Regions from separate parts of the Homo sapiens genome. Here regions 1, 2, 4 and 5 are each linked to region 3. The links come from fine-mapping of genetic effects on gene expression. A gene starts in region 3. Each other region holds a variant in brackets. All regions are shown on one strand. Distances are from middle to middle.

Region 1 (5,109 bases), 260 kb before region 3:
ACTCCACGTCAATGTTTACACACAGAGAAGCCTCTGTATTAAAAAGGATATCATCTTCATTTTAAGCATCATTTGACTCTGGGGATGTTCGTTGTTCCTCTATCTTAAAAACCACTTTTTACAGTATTTATACTATCCTGACAATGCAACAGTGACCCTCATCGTTCTTTGCGTTAGCTCCTTTTAGGCATTCTGCTTTTTCAAGCTAAACTGCTTGTGGGATTCCATCTGTTTAGTAACATTTGGTATATAATTAAACTAGAAAAAAAAAGACAACCTGGGGGAATCCCTGGGCAAAGTTTAACTAAATGCCCTTTTCCCATTCCATCTCTTTAAAGAAGTTCAGGAAATTAGATGAGAAACTCTGATCCTGTTGCTTTCTTTAAAGGTTGGAGAGTTTTACTTCTTACTAGAGTCTCCAGTTGTAATAAGGCAGATTCTTAAGATAGGGTGATATCTCCAAGAGTAAGTCCATCATCACTCATCTGAGTAACACTCAGCCAGATAGATCATAAGCTTTGAAGCAAAGATCTGGATTTAAGTCTTGCATCTGCTGTTTACTTGCCATGTGTTATCAAACCTTACAACTCCGAATATCAGTTCCATATGTAAGATGGAAATAATGTCCTATAATAACCTTCTAGAAGCCTTGTGAGAATCAACTCAGGATAAAAAAAAAATGTAAAGCAACAGCAAAATGTTTGGCGTGTAAGAGGCCAATTAATATTAGTTGAATATATAAATGCAATAATGACTCTGGAAGGTAGCTATTGTAATTCTCACTTTACAGATGAATAAACAAGTTCAGAGACATTAAGTTACTTGTCCAAGGCCACACAGCGCTCAGGCCTTTAACCAAAGTGTTATACCCTTGACCTCTCTTTTCTCCTCAATCCTGTCCTCTCCCCAAATCTAACCCATTAGCAAACCTGCCCTAAAATTTGTTCTAAAATCCTGATATTTGTCATCATCTCTGCTACAATCATCCTATTCCAAGTCTCACACATTATCTCTCATCTGTTTATTTCAACAACCTCTTTTAACTCTTGGTTTTAACTCTTACCTTCTCTGGTATCTGTTCCCAATACAGCAGATGGGATGATCTTTTTAAACCATAAATCAGGCCACGCCAGTTTCCTGCTTAACACTAGACAATGGCTCCCATCTGCACTTAAAATCAAATCCAAACTCCTTAGCAGAAGCTTCAGGACTCTGTATTATCAGATCTTTGTCTGTGCCTCTAATTTGGTCTCTTACTACTCTTTCACCTTGTTCACTGTTTCAATTTCACCAGCCTAATTGCCGCTTCTTATGCAGCCAAAATGCTTTCCTGCCTCAGAGCTTTTACCATTCCTCTGTTTGGAAGGCACTTGTACCAGAACTTCCCAAGGTTTACCCTCATCATTCAGGTCTCTGATCAAATGTTACCTCTCCAAGAGGCCTTCTCAGACCACCTTACCTGAAACAACATCATGATCACACTCAGTCCTTGACTCCTCACCCTGCCTTATTTTCTCTCTAGCGCTTACCACTATCTAAAATTACTGTATTTACTCCATTTTTTACTTGGTTATATTCTGCTTCACCTTACTCCCAAAAGATATGCCTCTTTCATGTAAAAAAGACAAAACAAAACAAAACAAAACAAAAAAACAGAAACAAAAAAAAGTCATTTAAGTGGAAGGGTGAATTAGCAAAATATATTTTGGTTTTTAAGATCCCAGTCTAATCATATGAGTCCTTAAAAGGTGACAACTTTTCCTGGCTGCAGTCAGACATATGTGGAAACAGAAGAAGGGTCAGAGAGATGTGATATTGCTGGCTTTGAAGATGGAAGAAGGGGAGCCACAAAGCAAGGAATGCTGGGAGCCTCTAGAAACTAGAAAAGGCAAGGAAACAGATTTTCCCCTAGATACTCCAGAAATAAACCCAGCCCTGCCTATGCTGCGATATCATCCCAGTGAGATTTGTATCAGACTTCTGACCTACAGAACTATAAAATAATAAATTTGTGCTCCTTTAAATTGCTTTAAAAAAAGGATTAATTAGCAAAACCATTTGATCCCAGACAACTGATGAGTTTCCCACTGTAGAAACAATACAAAGGCAAGCATTTTTACAAGCATTCAAACCCTCAGGACACCATTTAGCAAAGAGAAAAATCATCCAACCTTCTGCTCACTCAGGAATCAGGGGTAGGAATAGCACGGTTGATTTCCTCTCATTTTAGTGATTAGTTGTAAACTTTTCTCCACCAAGTCTTTTGTCAAAGCTACTAATAAGAAGCCAAATTGACTCATTTGATCTTAACCTTTTCTCTCCAGCCCTGCGCAGTGCATATTGAAGGTGCTAATGAACAGCAAACTGGCTCAGTGCACAATCACAGGAGGCCAAAGGAGAAGCACGGCAGAGCAGAGATTCCTGAACACGTTGGCTAATGTGGCTTGTATTTCTTACAAAATTTCTTGTCTAAAAACACAAAGATGTAAGGTTTGGTT[T/A]ATTTATCCCTGAATATCTGCTGATACAGGGAGATGACCAGCCTAATAGGAATTAGCAAGAAATGGAGAAGTGGCTCAGAAGCAGCCTAACCACCTAAATGACAAAGGAAATCAAACTGTTCAATATTAGCATCAACAGGCTTCACACCTAAGTAAGCCAGGGCTTCACCAATACTTTAGTAAGGGAGGGGTGTTGTTTATATCAGTCTCATACTGCTGTAAGTTCTGTGTGTTATTGTCATTACTGTAGACATATAAACTGCTTAGTAAATAATATAATGTATTTCGTAATGATTTGTTTACTTAACTAATTCTGAAGATTAATTCATCCAGTGGCTGAAATCACTCCCTAGAGTGGGTATATAACACTGGCAAAATGCACTCTCACAATTCAAGCCATACCTGAAGTTCACAGTAGCTGCAGAGAGCTGGGTTTATCCTATGAACCTGGGATTGGAGCTCTTCTATCAGCCAGAATATTTTGCAATACTGTTTGGCATAGAGACAAACATGCTGGAAGACTGTCAAAGGGAATTTTCTCACCAATAGGAGTATTCTTTCATATATATAGGAAAAAATGGCATGGCTTGTTTGTTTATAAATCTCATACTGCTTGCCACCACTTGAGCAGTAATTCTGAAAAGTGAAATGTTGGTGAGCATGTAATTCATTTGGAGCTCTGAGTTTTCCCATTTGGTGGCATACAGTGAGCAAAAAAAACTAACAGTAGGTCAGACTCTGTGCTGTGTTGGCAAGACATCCTCAGCGCCCCAGATTTCACTCCCAGTGTGAGATTTACACTGCACGGCAGCCACTGCAATGCACCTCTTTTTGCATTTCTATTTAAACAAGCGTTTGGATAAATGCTCTGATGTCACCGCTCAAAATAAAGATTGCTGCAAGACCCAACTGCAAGGAGTTGTTTAACATTCTGTGCACATACCCCTGCAAAGTCAGCACATTCTCAAAGTGATTTCATAGCTCAAACCTTCATTGTAAGAGAACAGTTAGGTCCCCCACATAAATTGGCTGTCTCTGGAGCATTTCCTCTTGGTCCCTAATTTGTCATGTTACAGAATTAGAGCGCTGTGTCTTTACTTCCCAGGCCAGTATGCTCATCTGTTCCAAGGATGTCTATCTTGCTAGTCATCAGTGCTTTTGTCCTATGAGAGTGTATTCTTATTGTCCACCAGTGAAGTCATGGTTCTTTAACTGAGGATAAAAATTTACCTTTTTATTCATCTACACTTAATTACACACTACAACACATAGTCACAACAATAGCTATTCTTTTAGGGCCTCTACTTTATGCTAGGAGCCAGAGTTGTGTACATAATTCACGGGGTTCAGTATGAAATGAAAATACAGGACCTGTTCAAAATTATTAAGCATTTCAAGATAATGACAGTAGAGTATTAAATCAAATGCTGAACCCTTCTAAATGCAGGGCCCTGTGTGATTACTCAGATAATGTGCCCATTAACCATTCCTAACTCCTCCCAGACTCCCACTACGCTTCCCAGATTCTGGTAATGATTCTTCTACTATCTATGTTCATGGGTTTAATTGTTCTGATTTTTAGATCCCACAAATAAGACCTACTATTTGATAGCACAATAGGGTTACTATAGTCAATAATAACTTAATTGTATATTTAATAATTTAAAGAGTGCAATTGGATTTTTTAAAAATTCAAAGAATAAATGCTCAAGGGGATGGTTACCCCATTCTCCATGATGTGCTTATTTCACATTGCATGCCTGTATCAAAATACCTCATGTAACCCATAAATATATGCACCTACTATATACCCACAAAAATAAAAAAAAATTAGAAGATAATGTGCTTATAAGCCAGCCCTGCTAAAAGTGAATTTATTTATTTATTTATTTATTTACTTACTTATTTTTTGTGGCTATATAATACCGGCACATATTTATGGACTACTTGTGAAATTTTGATATGAGCATACAATGTGTAATGATCAAATCAGGGTAATTGGGATATCCATCATCTCAAGCATTTATAATTCTTTTATGTTAAGAGCAACCATTTTTACTTCACTAGTTACTTTGAAAATGCAGTAAATTAGTGCAAACTATAGTTACTCTATTGAGCTATCAAAATTAGATCTTATTCCTTCTATCTAACTGTATTTTTGTACCCATTAACCATCCCCTCATATTCCCTCTCCACACTACCCTTTCCAGCCTCTGGTAACTATCACTCTACCTTCTATCTCGATGAGATCTATTTTTAATCTCTCATATATGGTTAAGCACTTGTGATATTTGTCTTTCTGTCCCTGGCTTATTTTGCTTAACATAATGCTTTCCTGCTCCATCCATGTTGTTGCAAATGACAGGATTTCATTTTTTATGGCTGAATAATATTCCATTGTGTATATGTAAACCAAAATTATCTCTGTTTTCCAAGGATGGAAACCAAACTCAGTGAAGTAACACGTCAGAAATTACACAGCAAGAAAGGGATAGTACCAGGCGCATTGACTCAAAAACCTATCTTCTTCCTATTATAGTAAAGGTTAGCAAACTATCGCTTACAGGCCAAATCTGTCCACAAGCTAAAAATGGTTTTTACATCCCTCATT
Region 2 (5,109 bases), 400 kb after region 3:
GCAAGAAAAAAACAATCCAATCAAAAAAATGGGCTAAGGACATGAATAGACAATTCTCAAAAAAAGGCATACAAATGGTCAACAAACATATGAAAAAATGCTCAACATCACTAATGATCAGGGAAATGCAAATCAAAACCACAATGTGATACCATCTTATGCTCACAAGAATGGCCATAATCGAAAAATTTTTTAAAAAATTAGATGTTGGCATGAATGTGGTGAACAGGGAACACTTCTACACTGCTGGCAGGAATGTAAACTAGTACAACCACTATGAAAAACAGTGTGGAGATTCCTTAAAGAACTAAAAGTAGAACTACCATTTCATCCAGCAATACCACTACTGTGTATCTCCCCTGAGGAAAAGAAGTCATTATACAAAAAAGATATTTGCACATGCATGTTTATAGCAGCACAATTCACAATTGCAAAAATGTGGAACCAACCCAAAAGCCCATCAATCAACGAGTGGAAAAGAAACTCTTCTGTATATATATGTGATAGAATACTACTCGGCCATAAAAAGGAAAGAATTAATGGCATTCACAGTAACCTGGATGGGATTGCAGGCTATTATTCTAAGCGAAGTAACTCAGGAATGGAAAAGTAAACATCGTATGTTCACACTCATAAGTAGGAGCTAAGCTATGAGGATGCAAAGGCATAAGAATAATACAATGGACTTTGGGGACTAGGGAAAGTATGGGGAGGAGGCTGAGGGATAAAAGACCACAAATTGGGTTCAGTGTATATGGCTCGGGTGATGGGTGCACCAAAATCTCACAAATCACCACTAAAGAACTTACTCATGTAACCAAATACCACTTGTTCCCCAAAAACCTATGGAAATAAAAAGTTTTTTTAAAAAAGAGTTGCAAGCATTGTGGCTCATGCCTACAATCCCAGCACTTTGGGAGGCTGAGGTGGGAGAAACACTTGAGCCCAGGAGTTCAAAACCAACCTGAGCAACATAGTGAGACCATATCTCTACAAAGTAACTTTAAAAATAGCCTGGCATGGTGGTGTACACCTGTGGTCCCAAGCTACTTGGGAGGCTGAGGTGGGAGGATTGCTTGAGCCCAGGAGGTGGAGGCTGCGGTGAGCCATGATTGTGCCACTGCACTCCAGCCTAGGAGACAGACAGAGTGAGGCCTTGTCTCTAAATAAATAAATAAATAATTACATGGGGTTTCTTATGATTGTTTATTTTTAGTTTCTCTTCTATGTCTCCCTTAGTATTTTAGTGGGAATTTGGCAGAGACACTTTCAAAAGATTCTGAAAACAAGTAATTCAAAACCTAAGGTGTTGGAACTCTAAATTATTTTGAGCCTTAAAGGTACGTGATTATGGGGTCTGAGTCATGTGACAAGCAGCTATAACCTAGACAGTTGTCACCTTTCTTTCTGTGATTATAGATTAAATCTTCTTCCTTACCTGCATTGTTTTGTAAAATGTTGTAAATGACTTAAGAATGCCAGGAAAGACCCTATCCCTCTTCACTTAATTTTCATTATAGATTAACTTCCCTCTTATCTTTCTCACACAGGGCTTCATGACTACCACACTGTCTTCAGATGAAATGTTAAATACACTGTTTTAAATTGGAAAGGAAATGAAAACCAGCCGTAATGAAAAGAAAACAAGCCTTATGGGAAGAAAGCAAACTGTTACTTTTTGTAATTCTTAAACCAGCCTTTTACAGAAAGTGTTTCAGTCTTATTAAATTTCTTTGTTTTCTGCCAATATAAGCAAGAACTCAACTTTTAATTTTGGAGAACTGATCCCTTTTCTCTGGGGTCTGTGTGTACCAAATGGTCATTTCTAGGTTTTCAATCGAATAAACTCTTTAGAACTGGATTCTGATCTTTTTGATTACTTAAAGTTGACAAGGTATATAAATGGGTAACATTTTGAACAAAATGTGAGAAATAGGCTGTTAAATGTTCTCCTCAAGTTCTCCTATGTTTTTACTCTCAAATAACACACTCTATTCCTCCAAGGGAGTTTGAGAAAAATAGATGCATTAAAATTTAAGCTTTAGATAACTTTTACAGAAGAATTAAGAACTTCTTCTTAAATATAAGAAAATATAAGAGAAATATCAAATGGTAGCACTTCATTCTGATTTACCTCCTATAAGCCTTTCAAATTTATTCATGTGACCTTTTTTATCTGAGTTAATAAATGTTCAATTTGCTTTAGTGAATAGATTCTATTGAGTTCATTACTGAAAATTGTACTTAAAATACTGATATATTAATTAAAACTTTTTGGTTTATAGATGGCAAAGAAGCAACTTGAATTAGTTTAGGCTGTAAATATACTACATTGAAAGAAAATAGAGGAATTTCTGAGAGCTAATAAAAGCATATATTAATTAAACATGGTAGCAACAAGGCTTCAGAACAACTGGCAGCAGAAGTTTTGTTCTGGCGGTCATTTGATTTTCTCTCTACATCTGGTTATCGTTTTCTACCTTATACTGGCTTGCTTTATTTATATAGTGGAGAGCATAGTATCTCAAATTTGGGATCTCAGACCCCAAATTTCACATATTATAGTTCCTATTATCCAAGAGG[G/C]ACTAACTCCTTACTCAGGTTGGAAATATTCTAGAGAAGGACTATCATCTTATGGAATTGGTAGGGCATGTGAATTCAATATTTCCAATTAATCATCAATCATCGTTATTTAGGATAAAGCAGAATTGTAGGAGTTCTCTTAATTATGTATTTTTTGACCTCACAGACTTAGAAACACAGGATTCTGTTTTGGCAGAACACAGTAGTAAACACCAAAGTTGGGGTACAACTCTGTGCAGAAGTGTCTTGTAAATAAAGAACGTAAGTCATTTTTTTTTAATCTGGAGTGGCAACAAATCAAGCCTGTGAAATATTGTTTTTTTCTTTTTTGCAAAACTTGACCTGTCAAGAGCTGAATTTGAAGCTAATCATCAATGATGCTACTATATTGTGCCCCAATAATAGTCAATTATAACAGATTTCAGGAGATGTTACATATTGATGACATGATAGTCATGATAACTTTAGATAAACGCTTCAGGAAATTTCACATTGTACTGTTCCCTAATAAATATAAGCTATTACTGTCAATAGTGATCAAGGAGAAATAGAAAATGAGAACTTTCAGTTTCTCTTTTTTAGATGATGGTATTCTTGATGTAGAGACTTTGTTTAGTCACATTACCTGCTATGTTTTATTCAGCCATCTGTACCCCACATTGTACCATGTACCAAGGACCCTAGGTATAATATCGAATAAAACATAGTTTTAGAATTCAAGGTCTTTAAAATCCAGTGTGGGTTATTGGGCAGCTCCTTGGGAAAAGTTGGTACATAAGGAGTTTATGGTTGAATGTTCTATTGCATGTATTTTTATTGTTCACCATAAATTCATGGGAAACATTGTATTTTCTAGATTCCCTTTCAGTTAGGTTACAGTTACATGACTGGACTCTGGCCAATGGAATTTGTATGGAATTGACATAAGCCTATTTTAGGACTGGCCCTTTAAATTTTCAGAAGAAGATGACTTGACTTCATTTGAACTGTATGTTAATGATGAATATAGTTTCATTTTGTTAAAACACTGCCTATGCCAGAAGATCACAAAGTGTGTCCAAAGAACATTGGTATGGGGTCCCCAAGATCCTTTAACAAGACCCACAAAACAACAATTATTTTCATCAAAATTCTAAAATAGTCTTTGCTTTTTCCATTAATTTTGTCATGAGTTTACAGAGAATGCTCCAGAGGCTACATGACCTGTAATAACATCAGTGCCCTTAAGGCTACTGGAATGTGTGCTTGTGTATTCTGTTTTCTAGAACTTTAGAATGTAGTATGTTTAAGATGTAAATATGCACTTCAGAGATAAATTCCATTTGTTCTTGATGCTTCTTTTCTATTACTACATATCTTTGGGTTATACGTGCTCTAATCTCTGTAATTTCAGAATCGTGCATTAAATTAAATTTTTAAAAAATTTTCATTTCTCTTGGGCCTAAGGAGAAACACAACTGGAAATGGATATATATTATTGGGTTTTTTTGGCAATATATTAAAATTTTTTTTTAATTACTTTTTAAATTTTGTCTAAAGTTGTTACTTTATAACTTAAACCATATGGTTTACTAAAACAAAATATATTTATAATTTCTTATATTTAAAGATACACTCTTGCCTTAAAAAGAAAGACTAGAATTCCTTTCTCAGCTTACAATGTAATATGTACACATAAAGATGCTGAAAAAAATATTAAGCTGACATTCTAGATAATTGCCTGTTTTAGGGAAGAGAATAATCTACTCCAAAGAAACGGTGAAAAACTAATAAGACAAAATATATGATGAAAATTTATTTTCTTCAGTCTTATATGTGGCAATAAATTATCTTAGTTTTTCATATGCAAAACATTTTGAATAGTGTTATGGAGTCTGCTAAGTTGGAGCATGATTTTGAAACCAATAATTTAAAATTTTTATAAAGAAGTATGTTGTAGTCATTTATGATGGATAAGGTCTAATTTACATCACCAGGGCTATAGTTAATATTATTTTGTACTGTGTCTAAGAAATCTGAAAAGAGATTACATTTTAGGTGCTCTTACTACACCTACACACACGCACTCTCAGACAAAGGTTACGCTATGTGAGAAGACAGATATGCTAATTGGCTTGACTGTAGTAATCTTTTCACCATGTATATGTATATCAAAACATTATATTGTACACCTTAAATATATACAATAAACATAAAGTTAAAAATAAATAAGGCATTGTATATTTTAACATAGACATGATAAACTATTTAAAAGTCAAAAATTGCTTATTACAGACTTTTAAAACATAAATGGAAAAGCCACTAAAGGATTTTATAGGGAAGTTCCTTGTGTTTTATTGTCTGGAGAAGTACACACAATTTTTTACATTTCACTTTGCCAAATACCTGCTCAATGAAAAGTCAGTAAAAACAATCATGGTGCTGCCACTTTCCAAACACATAGTCACTCATTGTCTTAAATATTTAGTTGCAAACATTAAGACTGAGTTAATATCTTATCTTCAGAAGTGTACTTTTGCCTTACAA
Region 3 (5,109 bases):
TATTTAGATTGCAAGCTAAAAACTAATTAGAAAGACTATACTTTTGCTGTTAACTTTCTCAGAGGTAAAATATCACTTTTCTTTAGTGGTTTGTGATGCTATGAATGAATACTTTCCAGGTTGGGTATTTCCTGGCTGTTAAATATCAGTTAAGTTTTGGCTGACTTCACCTCCATCTATCAACCTCCCTGCCAATCATTTAACAGCTATAGAATAGGTCTCCTCACACAAATCCTTCAGGAAGAATTTCCATTGTGCACATTCTGACCAGAAGAAAAAATGCAGCAAATTTTTGGAAAGTGAATCATTTTTAGAGTTCTGAGCAAATTATGTTAAACTCAGGGTTTCTCACTGTCAGCACCATCACATTTTAGGCAGTATAATTCTTTCTTGTGTGAGGTCGTCCTTTGTCCAATAAGACGCTTAGAAGCATCTCTGTCTCTGCTTATTAAATACCAGTAGCATTCCCTGCTGCCACCAATTATGACAACCAACAATATTTCTAGATATTGGCAAGTATCCCCTAAGTGGCAAAATCTCTTCCAGTTAAGAACCACTGAGTTAAGAACAGTAAGTAATGATCCAGGGAAAATGGATATAAAGATATTAAAAAGCTAGTAAAGCATTTGACATATTAGAAATGCATATAAACAATTCATATTTATAAAATAAAATCTACTGAAGATATAATGAATAAACACTTGTTTTGGTGAGCAAGCTTGGGATTGCAGCTGTGGGCCTGGAAGTGGTAGGAGCTGCAAAGCCTGCCCAGGATTAGCTGTAGCCAGAGCCGGCAGCCAAGACAATAGCAAAGATCAATTTGACCTCAAGATATAATCAAATATGACAGCAGAGTGAATGAAGCTTTTATTTTGCTCCGTTCTTCTCCATAATCCTTCTTATGCCCATAATCATTATAATTACATAAAATATTTAAAAACCTTTAAAAATTATTTCTTGGAAACCATGAATATGGCAGACTAGAGGCATTTTGTACTCACTTTCTCCATTAAAAATAACCAAACGGTGAGTCGATAATCACACTTTGAATATATAATTCAAAGGAAATCACTGGAATCCATTAGAAAAGTGATAGGCAATACTTAAAGCAGAGATGGAGAGGGAATCAAGGCAGCCTGCTCATCCAGGATCAGCTGTGAGCTGAGAGACTCCAAATACAGAGAAAGGATAGGTGAGAGAGCCTCAGTAGTTTACATTCTCACTATAGACTCCTATAATCCCAGCCACAGGAGATCCCTTCAACCATCATGGGCCCCGAAACTAACATAGAAAGCTGCCAGGAGATTGTATGATGGCACTGCTTCAGGGAGAAAGCTCCCGCTGGGTCCCTCACACTTCTTGAGACTTAAGCAGCTACAACAAAGTACCATTTTAGAGCCCTGCCCTCAACAGACTGAGCACTGTCCTGGAGCCCAGTAGCCCAGGGCTGAGGTGCAAGAGAAGCACGAACTGCTGCCCCAGGGACATAGGCATCAGTGACTACAGACTACAGCATCTGGTGCAGAGGTGGGACGAAGGCGTGGGCTGCTGCTTTTAGGACTGAGGCACAAATGAGGCACCACTGCAGAGCCTCACCCCCGATGAACTACATACTGTCCTGGAGCCCAGTGGCATTGAGGCCTAGGTGCAAACTAAATGTCTGATGTTTCCCTGGAGATTCAGACATGAGCGACCACAGGCTACTGCAACCAAGGGAAAGACATGAACATCAAGGCTGGGCAAGATAGCATCTTAGAGCCTCACCCCCAACAGACTGCACACTGTCTTGGAGCCAAGCAACACTGAGGCTGAGATGCAAAAGAAGAGCTGGCTGTTAACCTGGGGCTTAGACATGAGCATTCATGGGCTACCACACCTGGGGCTGAGGTGGGAGCACCACTGGGGATAAGGCATATGTGGCACATGTGTTTTTCACCCACTGGCCTAGACTGCCATCACTGAAGGTGGCATCCAACACCCAGTGGCAGGGCAGCAGCATGGCCACTGCCACCCTGTCTTTACCAAAGAGATAGAGACCATAAAAAAGGAACGAACAGAAATTCTGGAGCCAAAGAATGCAGTGAATAAACTAAAAAATACACATGAAAGCTTCAACAATATACTCAATCATAACTGACTTATGTTAAGATCACATTTTGCTTGAAGACAGTTTTTTTTGAAATAACGCTGTCAGACAAAAATAAAGAAAAAAAGAAAATAATAAAATAAACCTTTGGAATCTATCTAACAACATAAAGTGACCAAATATAAAAATCACTGATAGCCCAGAAGGCAAAGAGAGAAAACATGTTTTCAAAGACCTATTTATTGAAATAATAGATGACACTTCCTAAGTCGAGCAAGACACTTAGACATTGAGATACAGGAGGCCCATCAATTCCTAAACAGATACAATGTGAAAAGGTCTCTTCCATAGCACATTACAGACAAAATATTTAAAGTTTTTTTTTTCTTTTTTTCCAAGATGGCAGATTGGAAGCATTATAAGCATACTTATCCCACTTGGTAAGACAAAATGGCATGTAGAGATTCATGCTGTAAAATTTATTCGAAGAAACAATGTAAGAACTTAACAGAAAAACTGAAAGAAACCACAGACCCTTTGAATGAAGTGGCAGGCAACAGACTACATCATAAAACAGATGGAAAACCATTAGTCCCCAGAGCATGAGAGAGGGATAGATTGCTGTCATGACATATACTCCCACAGGCGAGCCAGGCAATACAAGTCATGAGGGAGGACTTCAAACCTACTCAGCTCTAGAGGTGATTCAGTGAAAAGTAAGGAATATATAAGAAGGAGCAGCATCGGGACATGCTTTGTGTGCAGACCCAGATTCCAGCAAGAATGGAGGGAAGCCATTCCTGATCCCACCTCACGGGACGTTGCAGAAGTCTAACTCAGGCTGCAGTCACAGTTTGAGAGAAGAGCCCAACTGGGATTTGTGATATAATCCTTAGTAAGGACAAAGCTGATTGGCCAGAACCGAGGGGCAAGTGAGAAGTGTGCTACGGCAACAAGGCACATGAGCTGCATGGCCCTGCTTCACAGGTGGACTGGAAAGGATGCAGCCTGAAAGATATGGTTTCTGTGTCCATAGGGAAAGCTTATGGCCTGGGATGGTTTTAAATTCTGAGCACGGGCCACTTGAAACCCAGTTAGCTGCTGCTGCTAGCAGAACACTGTGGGTATGAAAACTGACTTGCCAAGTGTGTGGGAGCTGAGTGGGGCTTATTACAACCTGCTGCCTCCCACTTTTCAGGCAGATTTTTTGTGCAGCAGAGGCAGCTGTGTTCCTGCCTGGAACATTACCCCACCAGCCAGGGAACTGCCCTCGGATCCCCACTGGGGCCACTGCTTGCACCTGCACATGGGGAGCCAGAGTGCAGACTTGCCTGACTCAGTTTAATAACTTCTGAGGCACAATGAAATCATCCCAATGCCTCCATGTTCAATTTCAGGCACTAACAAGTCCCTGAGGTATTAAATGCATTGCTTTTCTGCGGTCTTGCCACCTTCAGGAGCTTACTAAGAAAATGAAGAAGAGCCACGATCACTCCTCTCAATTAGCCTCTTCCCTTGGCTGAGAAATGTGTTTCCGGTCTTGAGAACACAGAAGTTTTGCATTTGCTCATGAGAGATCTGAAACCTTCTGACACTGCCCTGCATCTTTTCCATTCCCTCTAAATAGAGAAGACTCTTCTCCTGTCTCCTACCTTCTGCTCTGACATCCATTCACTAACACCTAGGCACAAAAAGCCTAGTTCACCCAATGGCAGAAACGGCTAAGGTGGGCCTCTTCCAAGCTATGAACAACATTTCAAAGCTTAAGTCCCTACCCTCTTCCAACACAATGTCCTTTTCATTCCTCTAGCTCAGTAGTGCTCAGATTGGGGGTGATTTTGCACCCCATCCCAAGAAGACATTTTGCAGTCTGGAAATATTTTTGGTTGTCACAACTGGGATGGCTCTTGGTGCTATCGGCATCTATTGAATAGAAACTAGGAATGCTGCTAATCATTCTAAATTCAGCAAGATGACACCCCCTCAAAAAAGCCCACAGAACTATCTGTCTCAAAATGTCAATAGTAATAAAGGTGAAAAACCCTGTAGCTCATTCCTTAATAGGCCACCCAAAGAGATTTTGGATGTTTTCATTTATAAAATTATGCATATATTTTGGCAAATCAACAGCTGTTTCTCACCACTGATGGTTAGACAAGGGAAAGAATAAGGAGACTGATATTATAATGAGCTCATTCTATGCCAGGTACAGTGCTCAATACTTCAGATTTATATTATCACATTTAATCTGTTAAAAATGTCCCAACATGTAGTAACAAGAGTTATTTTTATTTTACAAAGTTAAAAGAAAACTGAATTTTGAACAAATTGAAAGATCGATTCAGATTACAGCATCTGTAAATGGCAGAGCAGAAACTTACTATTAATGATCGCATGGCTTCAGAGCTGATGCCAGCCATCTCAATCTCACAAAGATCTCCGCATTCACTCATCTTTTACCCTCAAGCATTGTCTTACGTAGACATTCCTGACTTATTCCAATGGAAAGTCAAAAACAGAAATTTGATATTCAACAAGGAATATTATGTAGGATTTTGCTGTTGTTTCCTGAAAATTTTTCAATATACTGAATAAGCTATGGGAAAGCAAGCGGAAATAGTGTTGGCTTATAAAACCTCTCACCCTGTGACTAACCAAAATGAACAGAAAGGATTCATCAATGCTGAAACTTGAAACAAAACTGAGTCTTAATCAATATAATTCTTGAGGTATGATTCAGATCCAGTATAATTTGGCCCAGATTGAAAGAAGACTCAAAAATCAATATATAACCCCTATCACTACCTTGGTCCAGATATTCCAATTTGAAGAAGCAAGGAAATTAGACTTGAGCAGATCTGGAGGAAGTGTAGGCTGCACTGTGTGGAGCTTGTTTCTCCACTGCAAATAAGCATTCCTGAGAAACTAAATGCTGGACAAGATGCAAAGCCATACAACCGATGTGATTGCCTCCCTAACTACCTGCCAACCTGTAGTTTATCTTCCTTCTAAACAGACAGAAT
Region 4 (5,109 bases), 130 kb after region 3:
TCAGAGGTCTTCACAGCAGCCCCTCCCAACACAGACCTGGAGGCCTAGAAGGAAAACATGGTTTTGTGGGCCAGATCCAGGGTCCCTGTGCTGTGTGCAGTTTAGGGACTTGGTGCCCTGCATCCCAGCTACTCCAGCCATGACTAAAAGAGGTCAAGATGCAGCTCAGGCTGTGGCTTCAGAGGGTGCAAGCTCTAAGCCTTGGCAGCTTCCACATGGTGTTGAGCCTGTGGGTGCACAGAAGTCAAGAATAGAGGTTTGGGAACCTATACCTAGATTTCAGAAGATGTAAGGAAATGCCTGGGTGTCCAGGCAGAAGTTTGCTGCAGGGGTGGGGCTCTCATGGAGAACCTCTACTAGGGCAGTGTGGAAGAGAAATGTGGGGTTGGAGCCCCCACACAGAGTCCCTACTGGGGCACCACTTCGTGGAGCCGTGAAAGGAGGGGCACCATCTGCCAGACCCAAGAATGGCAGATCCACCGACAGCTTGCACCGTGTGCCTGGAAAAGCCACAGACACCCAACACCAGCCTGTGAAAGCAGCTGGGAGGGAGGCTGTACACTGCAAAGCCACAGGGGTGGAGCTGCCCAAGACCATGGGAACCCATCTCCTGCACCAGCGTGACCCAGACGTGAGACATGGAGTCAAAGGAGATCATTTTGAAGCTTTAATATGTGACTCCCCTACTTGATTTTGGACTTGCATGGGGCCTGTAGCCCCTTGTTTTGGCTAATTTCTCCCCTTTAGAGTGGCTATATTTACCCAATTCCTGTACTCCCATTGTGTCTAGGAAGTAACTAACTTGCTTTTGATTTTACAGGCTCATAGGTGAAAGAGACTTGCCTTGTCTCAGATGAGACTTTGGACTGTGGACTTTGAGTTCATGTTGAAATGAGTTAAGACTCTGGGGGACTGTTGGGAAGGCATGATTGGTTTTGACATGTGAAGACATGAGATTTGGAAGGGCCAGGGGCATAATGATACAGTTTGGCTGTGTTCCCACCCAAATCTCAACTTGAATTTCCACATATTGTGGGAGGCGCCTGGTGGGAGGTAAATGAATCATGGGGTCAGGTCTTTCCCATGCTGTTCTTTTGATAGTGAATAAGTCTCATGAGATTTGAAGGCTTTATAAGGCAGAGTTTCCCTGCACAAGCTCTCTTTTTGTCTGCCGCCATTCACATAAGATGTGATTTGCTCCTCCTTGCCCTCTGCCATGATTGTGAGGCCTCCCCAGCCATGTGGAACTGTAAGTCCAATAAACCTCTTTTTTTAGTAAAATTGCGCAGTCTCAGGTATGTCTTTATCAGCAGCATGAAGATGGACTAACGCAACACTCATTTTTCTCCCTGCTGCCATGTGAAGAAGGATGTGTTTGCTTCCTCTTCTGTTATCATTTGTAAGTTTCCTGGGGCCTCTGCAGCCATGCTGAACTGGGAGTCAATTAAACCTCTTTCCTTTATAAATAACTCAGTCTTGGGTATGTCTTTATTAGCAGCATGAGAACGGACTAATACACATACCAATAAATTAAGTTACAAAATGTCAAAATGTCTATAAGTTTAAATACTTCATAATGTAAAAATATAGATGAAATAAACATGTAAAAGAAATCTCTAAAGGCTATCATCCCTAAGATAAAGAGCAAAATAAAGATGTTTACTTACACCACTATTATTTCTCTTTTCTTTTGAAGTTGCGGCCAATAAAATAATATTAATAATGGCAGCAGCAACAAAAAACCCTTTATAGTGCTTATTATGTGATAGGCATTGTTCTAAGCATTTTGTCTAAATGAACTCATGTGATTCTTTGATGGTCCAAATCACCTTGTGTGGTAAGTAACTGTCTCTCAGTTTTAAAGAAAGTTGAGGTTAAGAGATGTAAAGTATCACAGCTGGTAAGCGGTGAAGCCATATTAAAATATATGAGCTCTAGTTCCTATAAATAAATAAACAAATGAATATACACATATGTGTAATAACAATGTGTAATTCCTTATAAGATATGTAATTATCTGTAGATTACATTCTTATATACCGAGAAAACGTGAGAAAATTCATTCTATATCTTTTTAGAACTAATTAGAGGTTCAGTATGGTAAAAAGTGGGCATATTTATTATAGTAAACAACAACAGAATGTATTTAGGAATAATCAAAGTAAAAATTTCTATTTTATGTAAATGTAATTATAATTTTTATTCTGTTCCAATC[A/G]AAATATTATTTAAAAATAAACTGGCAAAAGGACTCAAAGATATACCTGGAATAACAGGTGATACTAAGATACTTTTGATAAAGACGAATGAGGGAAGACCGGTCCCAACATCAATGCCATTATAAAGATAGAAAAAACAAAACACTTGGTATTGGCAAAGAGCAATAGCTAAAAGGAACACAGTACAAAGTCTGGATTTAGACTCAAGAATATATAATTTAGTATATGATAAGGCAGCATTTAAAATAAACACGGTCGTATCAAATTGGCATGTAATGTACCCCATCTTGAAACTTGCTACTATCTTGGCTTGTGTGTGGATAGCATATTACATTAATGCCGAGCAGATTAGTAACGCCGAAGTAGCTGGCGCCTAAATGGCTTAAACGCGGAGAAACCACCTACTGATGATGGAACAAAAACTGACCAATCAGATTATAGAGCGGGCTTTTTAAAATTTAAGAAGCTTCTTTGTAGCTAAACCAATAAGAACAAAGACACAACATACCAGAATGTCTGAGACACATTCAAAGCAGTGCGTAGAGGGAAATTTATAGCACTAAATGCCTACAACAGAAAGCAGGACAGATCTAAAATTGACACCCTAACATCACAATTAAAAGAACTAGAGAAGCAAGAGCAAACACGTTCAAAAGCTGGCAGAAGACAAGAAATAACTAAGATCAGAGCAGAACTGAAGGAGATAGAGACACAAAAAATGCTCCAAAAAACCAATGAATCCAGGAGCTGGTTTTCTTAAAAGATCAACACAATTGATAGACTGCTAGCAAGACTAATAAAAAAGAAAAGAGAGAAGAATCAAATACACGCAATAAAAAATGATAAAGAGGATATCACCACTGATGCCACAGAAATACAAACTACCATCAGAGAATACTATAAACACCTCTATGCAAATGAACTAGAAAATCTAGAAGAAATGGATAAATTCCTCGACACATACACCCTACCAAGACTAAACCAGGAAGAAGTTGAATCCCTGAATAGACCAATAACAGGTTCTGAAATTGAGGCAATAATTAATAGTTTACCAACCAAAAAAAGTCCAGGAATAGAAGGATTCACAGCCAACTTCTACCAGAGTTATAAGGAGGAGCTGGTACCATTCCTTCTGAAACTATTCCAATCAACAGAAAAACAGGGAATCCTCCCTAACTCATTTTATGAGGCCAGCATCATCCTGATACCAAAGCCTAGCAGAGACACAACAAAAAAACAGAATTTTAGACCAATATCCCTGATGAACATCGATGCAAAAATCCTCAATAAAATACTGGCAAACGGAATCCAGCAGCACATCAAAAAGATTATCCACCATGATCAAGTTGGCTTCATCCCTGGAATGCAAGGCTGCTTCAACATACACAAATCAATAAATGTAATCCAGCATATAAACATAACCAAAGACAAAAACCACATGATTATCTCAATAGATGCAGAAAAGGCCTTTGACAAAATTCAACAACCCTTCATGCTAAAAACTCTCAATAAATTAGGTACTATTGGGATGTATCTCAAAATAATAAGAGCGATCTATGACAAACCCACAGCCAATATCCTGCTGAATGGGCAAAACCTGGAAGCATTCCCTTTGAAAACTGGCACAAGACAGGGATGCCCTCTCTCACCACTCCTATTCAACATACTGTTGGAAGTTCTGGCCAGGGCAATCAGGCAGGAGAAAGAAATAAAGGGTATTCAATTCGGAAAAGAGGAAGTCAAATCGTCTCTGTTTGCAGATGACATGATTGTATATCTAGAATACCCCATTGTCTCAGCCCAAAATCTCCTTAAGCTGATAGACAACTTCAGCAAAGTCTCAGGATACAAAATCAATGTGCAAAAATCACAAGCATTCCTATACACCAATAACAGACAGAGAGCCAAATCATGACTGAACTCCCATTCACAATTGCTACAAAGAGAATAAAATACCTAGGAATCCAACTTACAAGGGATGTGAAGGACCTCTTCAAGAAGAACTACAAACCACTGCTCAACGAAATAAAAGAGGACACAAACAAATGGAAGAACAGTCCATACTCATGGATAGGAAGAATCAATATCGTGAAAATGGCCATACTGCCCAAGGTAATTTATACATTCAATGCCATCCCCATCAAGCTACCAATGACTTCCTTCACAGAATTGGAAAAAACTACTTTAAAGTTCAAATGACACCAAAAAAGAGCCCGCATCGCCAAGTCAATCCTAAGCCAAAAGAATAAAGCTGGAGGCATCACGCTACCTGACTTCAAACTATACTACAAGGCTACAGTAACCAAAACACAGATATAGCATGGTACTGGTACCGAAACAGAGATATAGACCAATGGAACAGAACAGAGCCCTCAGAAATAATACCACACATCTACAACTATCTGATCTTTGACAAATCTGACAAAAACAAGAAATGGGGAAACGATTCCCTATTTAATAAATGGTGCCGGGAAAACTGGCTAGCCATATGTAGAAAGCTGAAACTGGATCCCTTCCTTACATCTTATACAAAAATTAATTCAAGATGGATTAAAGACGTAAATGTTACACCTAAAACAATAAAAACCCTAGAAGAAAACCTAGGCAATACCATTCAGGACATAGGCATGGGCAAGGACTTCATGTCTAAAACACCAAAAGCAATGGCAACAAAAGACAAAATTGACAAATGGGATCTAATTAAACTAAAGAGCTTCTGCACAGCAAAAGAAACTACCATCAGAGTGAACAGGCAACCTACAACATGGGAGAAAATTTTTGAAATCTACCCTTCTGACAAAGGGCTAATATCCAGAATCTACAATGAACTCAAACAAATTTACAATAAAAAAACAACCCCATCGACAAGTGGGTGAAGGATATGAACAGACAC
Region 5 (5,109 bases), 42 kb before region 3:
TTCAAAAAGTACACAAAAGGAAACGAGGTAAATCTATCTCTCCCATATGGAACAGAAATGCAAAGAACACTGTATTGTTCCCTCAAGCCCCACCCGGGCCCTCCACTACCTAGGACCCTGACTGCCCTCTTCAAACACAGACGTAAGAAACGGCCCTATACTTCACTCAGGACAGGAGAAGTTTCTGGAGATGACACGGAACCTTGCACTGGCCATGGCAGTAGCATCATTTTTGGTGTCAATTATGGCCTGGGCTCTGTCTTCCACATCTTTCAAAGCATCCTTGGAAGAGATTGGAAAGGAACTAGAGACGGTATTGTTTCACATGACCAAAATCTCACTACTTTCCTCTTGCTAGTTTCTGAATGGGCTCTAGGACCCCACAGGAATTCATAACGTGGAGGAGCACTACTGGGCACATGTCGCTACTCCAGGTAATGTCCCTGCACTCAAACTTTAGTGACAAGCTCCCTGGGCTCCCGATAGACGAAATGCTCCCTCTGAGCACACACCCCTATTGCATTCAGCACTTCCCAGATGACCTCCTCAGATGCACAGTTGCCCTTTATGAAGATCACACTCAGAATAAGAATCAGGAGGCGGTTCTGGGGCATGCCCTGCTCATCACTCAGACTCCCCTCACAGGTGAGGTCTAATGTGTTTACAAAGACATAGAAATGGTCGGGGTCCACTTCTGTCAGGGAAATGCCAAAAAGAATCTCTATGAACTCACGGGCTTTCCTGAAGATCATAGGAAAGTAGCCCGTGTATGTGTTGATGACATTCATCTGCATCTCTGCTCTTGTGAGAGGCTCTTTTGCTTGATATTTGAGGAGAAGAAACTGCACCAACTTGTCCACCTTTTCATCCAGTGTATAAGTGAACAAGGGCTCGCTCTCTGGCAAGCTGTGCCAGGTACTTGTATCTTCATCTTATTGGCTGCTAGGCTCTTCATTGAATGGGCTTCATAAAGTGGAGGAGGAGCAGGACAGGGAACCCTGGAGAGGACCCTGGGGAGGACTCTCAGGAGGATTCTGGGGAAGAGGCAGCATCCCAGCAGACAGCTACTCCTCCTCCTCCTCATGAGCACCAAGAATCAGAGTAGAGGATGAGGAGGAGGAGGAGGAGGAAGAGGAGAAAGAGGAGGAGAAGGAGGAAGAAGAGAAGGAAGAGGAGGGGAATAATAAGTAGAAAGAGGAAGAGGAAATGGAGGAGGTTTTCTCCTCTTCCTCCTCTGTGGAATCCTGTGCATCTGCCAAGTTCTCTATCACAGTTTGGTTCTGGAAGTCTTTCTCAAAGTTGCCGCTAGGAACATTTCAAAACACAGGCATAACGTCTTCCTTAGGAGCAGGAGGTAAATGTGTGAGCAGGGATGTGGATGATGGCATCCAACAGGCCTGAGGGAGAGAGGGACACTGCAAGTGGCCTCAGCTGAGAAACTCACCCATGGTGGTTCTGACAAAGGCCGGCTTACAGCTCTTCTTCTCTTAAGGTGGTGCTCTAGGGCCTCACGGGTCACCTGCCATCCTAGGGGGTTTGTCCCCTGGGAACCTGTAGGAGGATGTGAGAAAGCACCTCGGGGCACAGCTGGCAGGCAGAGCCTGAGGCACCAGGAATGGCAGTAGGTGGCTATGGCCAGGTGCTGCCAGGTCTGCTCTGTTTGTGGGGGTAGGGCCCTTGGTACACAGTCAGGGCGTGCACTCACCTTGACTCCTGATATTGCCTGGGCCTCCTCTGCTGTGCTGACTTTAGGAAGTGTGCCTCAGACCCAGGTCTTCAACTCCTGGTTCCTGGAGCACCTGCAAGAGGAAGTGAGGGAGCCCCTCAGGCTAAAGACTGCAAGCAGAGTCTTGGGCCTCCCAAGGCTGACAGCTGGGGCTGACCAGACTCCCAGAGCCCCACAGTTCTGGACTGCATGGTCCCATCAGAATTTAATTAGCATCCTCACCTTTTCTCAGACAGGGCCATGTCCCTACCACTCTTCTAGCCAAAACTCAGGGCAAACTCCACATCCCTGAGAGCAGTGGGAGGTAGTGAGGTGGCAGCCACCTCCCAGCACTCTACCACGGGGGCAGTTGGGCTGGCCTCACATCTGTTCTGATGCACATGTGACTCCTCAGTCCTCACTCTTATCCCCAGCAGGGCCTGGGAATCTTCCCTCTGCCAACTGGAGGCAGCTCCCTGTGCTGATTTGCCACGGGACCCTCAGACCAAGGCCTTCCCTTTCCCTGCACCTCTCACCCAGCAATGAGAGGGCTGCCGCTCAGCCTGAGCTGACTGGGGAGCTCTACGAGGGCTGATATGGAGGAGCATGCTGGGAATCTCTGGGAGTCTGTCCTCTGAGGTGGCGTTTCCCCTTGTCCTTCTCAAAGTCTTCCTATTTATTCCCTAGAGAGCTGGCACCTCCTCCCTTCTTCTGTCATGAAGACGTGTCCCTCAGCCCTCGGTTACCCTCTTCCTGTCTGCGACCTACAATCTCACAGCAGGTAGAGGGCAGGCAAGAGCTTCTTCTTTCTGTGGTGGGAGGTCCCTCAGTTCTCCCTTAGGGCCCTTACCTTGAGGATCGGCCAGTTCTAAGAGTCTTCTGTCTGCTGATCTCAATTAAGCCTTCTCACAAAATGCCTCAAATACTTCAGACTCCCAGTGGGGCTAGGTCTCCTCTCTATGGAGGAACCACCCCTCACCTCTCTACCTCTTTCCCACACTTTCCTGACCACCTCCCGGCCCTTCTCCACCCCTTCCTGCCCATCTCCTGGGCCCCCTCCACCCCTTCCTGCCTACCTCCCCGACCCTTTCCACCCCTTCCTGCCCACCTCTCGGTATCCCTCCACCTTTTCCTCCTCACTTCAAAGCCCTCGTCCATATTTCCCTGCCCACCTCCCCGCTTTCTCCCCCCACAACCTTTTTCCAGGGCTGACGGCAGGAAGGGAAAGGGTGTAGCCTGTGCCTCTCCTCCATGTTGGAAGGTCACTGTCCTTCCACAGAGTTCTCTTCTCGTTGAGTGGCCAGTCCTGGGGTTCCTCCCTCTGCTTAACTGAAACTGCCCTCCTCAGAGAAAACTTCCCCTCCGGCTGACTCCCAAAATGCAAGTCAGAAAGTTGTAAACCTGGGGACCCTGATAGGGTCCTCCAGAGCTGGCAGCAGGCACAGGGACAGGGGAGGGGCACTACCAGTCATGGGTGTTCCCTTCCTGCCTTCC[C/T]GAGAGGCTGTGCCTGGACTCCTGGAAACCGCCTGGCCTTCCTGCCTCTGTGCAACTGAGTCTTTCACCTCCGAATAAGCCCCTCCCATCCCTGAGACCTGCAAGGTGCAAGAGAGGGAGAATCACATCCACCCACAGTGGGGTGGGGCCTCCCAGGCCCAAGGCAGGACTCTGGTGTCCTTTTTCTAAAATGGGGTGGGCAGGACTCTCTGTTTTCCTGCAGTTATTATTCCTGACATGGCCTGGGAGCCCTTCCCCTGCTGTCCAGAGACTATGTTCTTCAGATCAAGGTCCCCATTTCCATGAGACGCCCCCCAAGACGAAGTGAAAAGCGCTAGCATCTCTGACTGAGGGCCCTGCCCAAGGCCTCCCAGGGGTGAAAACAGGGCCTGGATTTGTGTGTCCTTCTGTTTCTTGGGAGGGGTGTCTCACCAGTCCTTCCTCTGTGTCATCCTGGGGATGCCTGGAAGGGCCTGAGTCCCTTCACCTCTCATGATCTGAAGTGAGACTCACCTAGGCAGAGCCTTCTCCTCTTTCTACCCTCTAAAATGTCAGGGGGACACCACAGTGGGCCACCATGCCCCAGGGCCTCCCAGGGCTGACAGCAGCAGTGGAGCTGGATTCTGTGGATCCTTCTCTTTGTGGGCAGGGAGTCTTGCAGTTATCTCTCAGAGGCTTCATGTGACTACTGGCTGGTCCTGGGTCTCCCTGTTCTTCTCATGATGACAGTATAACATACGGCAAAAAATAATGTAATTTTACCCTGAATAAAGCTAAAAAGCACGATGATGCCATGGTAATCAAGTTAACATCATCAGTGACAAATTTTGTTGGTACTATGTGCTGTCGGTATGATAAGAACGGCACTTCACCTCTCTGTTCATCCTTCCAGGAAACATTACCTACATCAAATCATGACAGAAAAAAATCACATAAATCCCAGTCAAAGTCAATTTTACAAAATACCTAACCATACGAAACTGTCAAAACTGTCAATGTTTTCAAAATCGAGAAATGTCTCAATCAACCGGTACAGCCAAAGGGCATCGAAGGAACATGATAACTAAATGTAATGGAGTATCCTTAGGGGATCCTGGCATAGAAAATAGAATTTCGTGAAAAGTAAGAAAATGTGACTGAAGTATGTTCAATAATAAATAAAGAATGTTTGTTAAAAACAATGTACAAATACTGGCTCATTAGTTTTAGGAAACCTTACCAAGGTAAGGTGTTAATAACAGGAGGCATTGAGTGTGGAACATATGAGAACTTTCTTACTATTGTTATAATTTTCTTGTAAATCTAAAATTATTTAAACATAAAGTTTATCAAATATGAAAAATGTTACCAAACTAGATAAAAGGATATGCATGAAAAACCTACAACAGATACATCTTTTAAGGAAATGTTGGAAGCCTCTAGTTTGAACTTGAGACCTAACCTAGAGTTTCTGCTACAAGTACTTCTATTACTTTTTATACTAGAGGTAGTAGCCAGTGTAGTAATCCAAAGAGCAGTAAATGAAGGAATGAGGATTGGCCAGTTGGAAACAAAGCGTTTGTGATTCATGCATGATTAGACTGTGCATGAAAAGAATCCAAAACAACTAAAGATAATTTATTCAATATATAATAGTATATCAGTTTGCTAGTATAAGGTCAATATTCAAAAGAATATCAACTTCGTTTTTTGTCAGGGAAAGAGTATGAAAATGAAAGTAAAGACTATATAATTTTAACCTATAGTACCAAAATATCAAGTATCTTAGGAAAATAATTTAACCAAAAACATTTTAACCAAATAAGACTGGGAGGCAGCTGATGGCTGGTTAAAATATTTTTTGGTTAAAAAAGCTTAACCAAAAAATTTTTACAGACAAAAATATTAAAATGCTGTTGAGGCATATTAAC

What was found. PIP is the estimated chance that this variant, and not a neighbour inherited with it, causes the effect.
Region 1: its variant is fine-mapped to the expression of MAGEC3 in spleen (GTEx, PIP 0.98).
Region 2: its variant is fine-mapped to the expression of MAGEC3 in breast (GTEx, PIP 0.98).
Region 4: its variant is fine-mapped to the expression of MAGEC3 in tibial nerve (GTEx, PIP 0.99).
Region 5: its variant is fine-mapped to the expression of MAGEC3 in thyroid (GTEx, PIP above 0.99). The same link has a PIP of 0.9 or more in breast and left ventricle.

What each region holds. Positions count from the first base shown.
Region 1 is chrX:142,094,319-142,099,427 of GRCh38, reverse strand. No RefSeq gene overlaps it. Among named protein-coding and RNA genes, the nearest start is that of MAGEC2, 110 kb to the left of the region's middle. The variant T/A (reference allele first, on the strand shown) is at 2,499.
Region 2 is chrX:141,433,936-141,439,044 of GRCh38, reverse strand. No RefSeq gene overlaps it. Among named protein-coding and RNA genes, the nearest start is that of SPANXA2-OT1, 66 kb to the left of the region's middle. The variant G/C (reference allele first, on the strand shown) is at 2,584.
Region 3 is chrX:141,835,206-141,840,314 of GRCh38, reverse strand. MAGEC3 (MAGE family member C3) reads right to left here and starts at 1,999. Exons shown (of 8, transcript NM_138702.1): 1 at 1,877-1,999. The coding sequence starts at 1,999.
Region 4 is chrX:141,703,496-141,708,604 of GRCh38, reverse strand. No RefSeq gene overlaps it. Among named protein-coding and RNA genes, the nearest start is that of SPANXD, 7.3 kb to the right of the region's middle. The variant A/G (reference allele first, on the strand shown) is at 2,216.
Region 5 is chrX:141,877,200-141,882,308 of GRCh38, reverse strand. MAGEC3 (MAGE family member C3) reads right to left here. Exons shown (of 8, transcript NM_138702.1): 3 at 2,878-3,134; 4 at 513-906. Among named protein-coding and RNA genes, the nearest start is that of MAGEC1, 24 kb to the left of the region's middle. The variant C/T (reference allele first, on the strand shown) is at 3,200.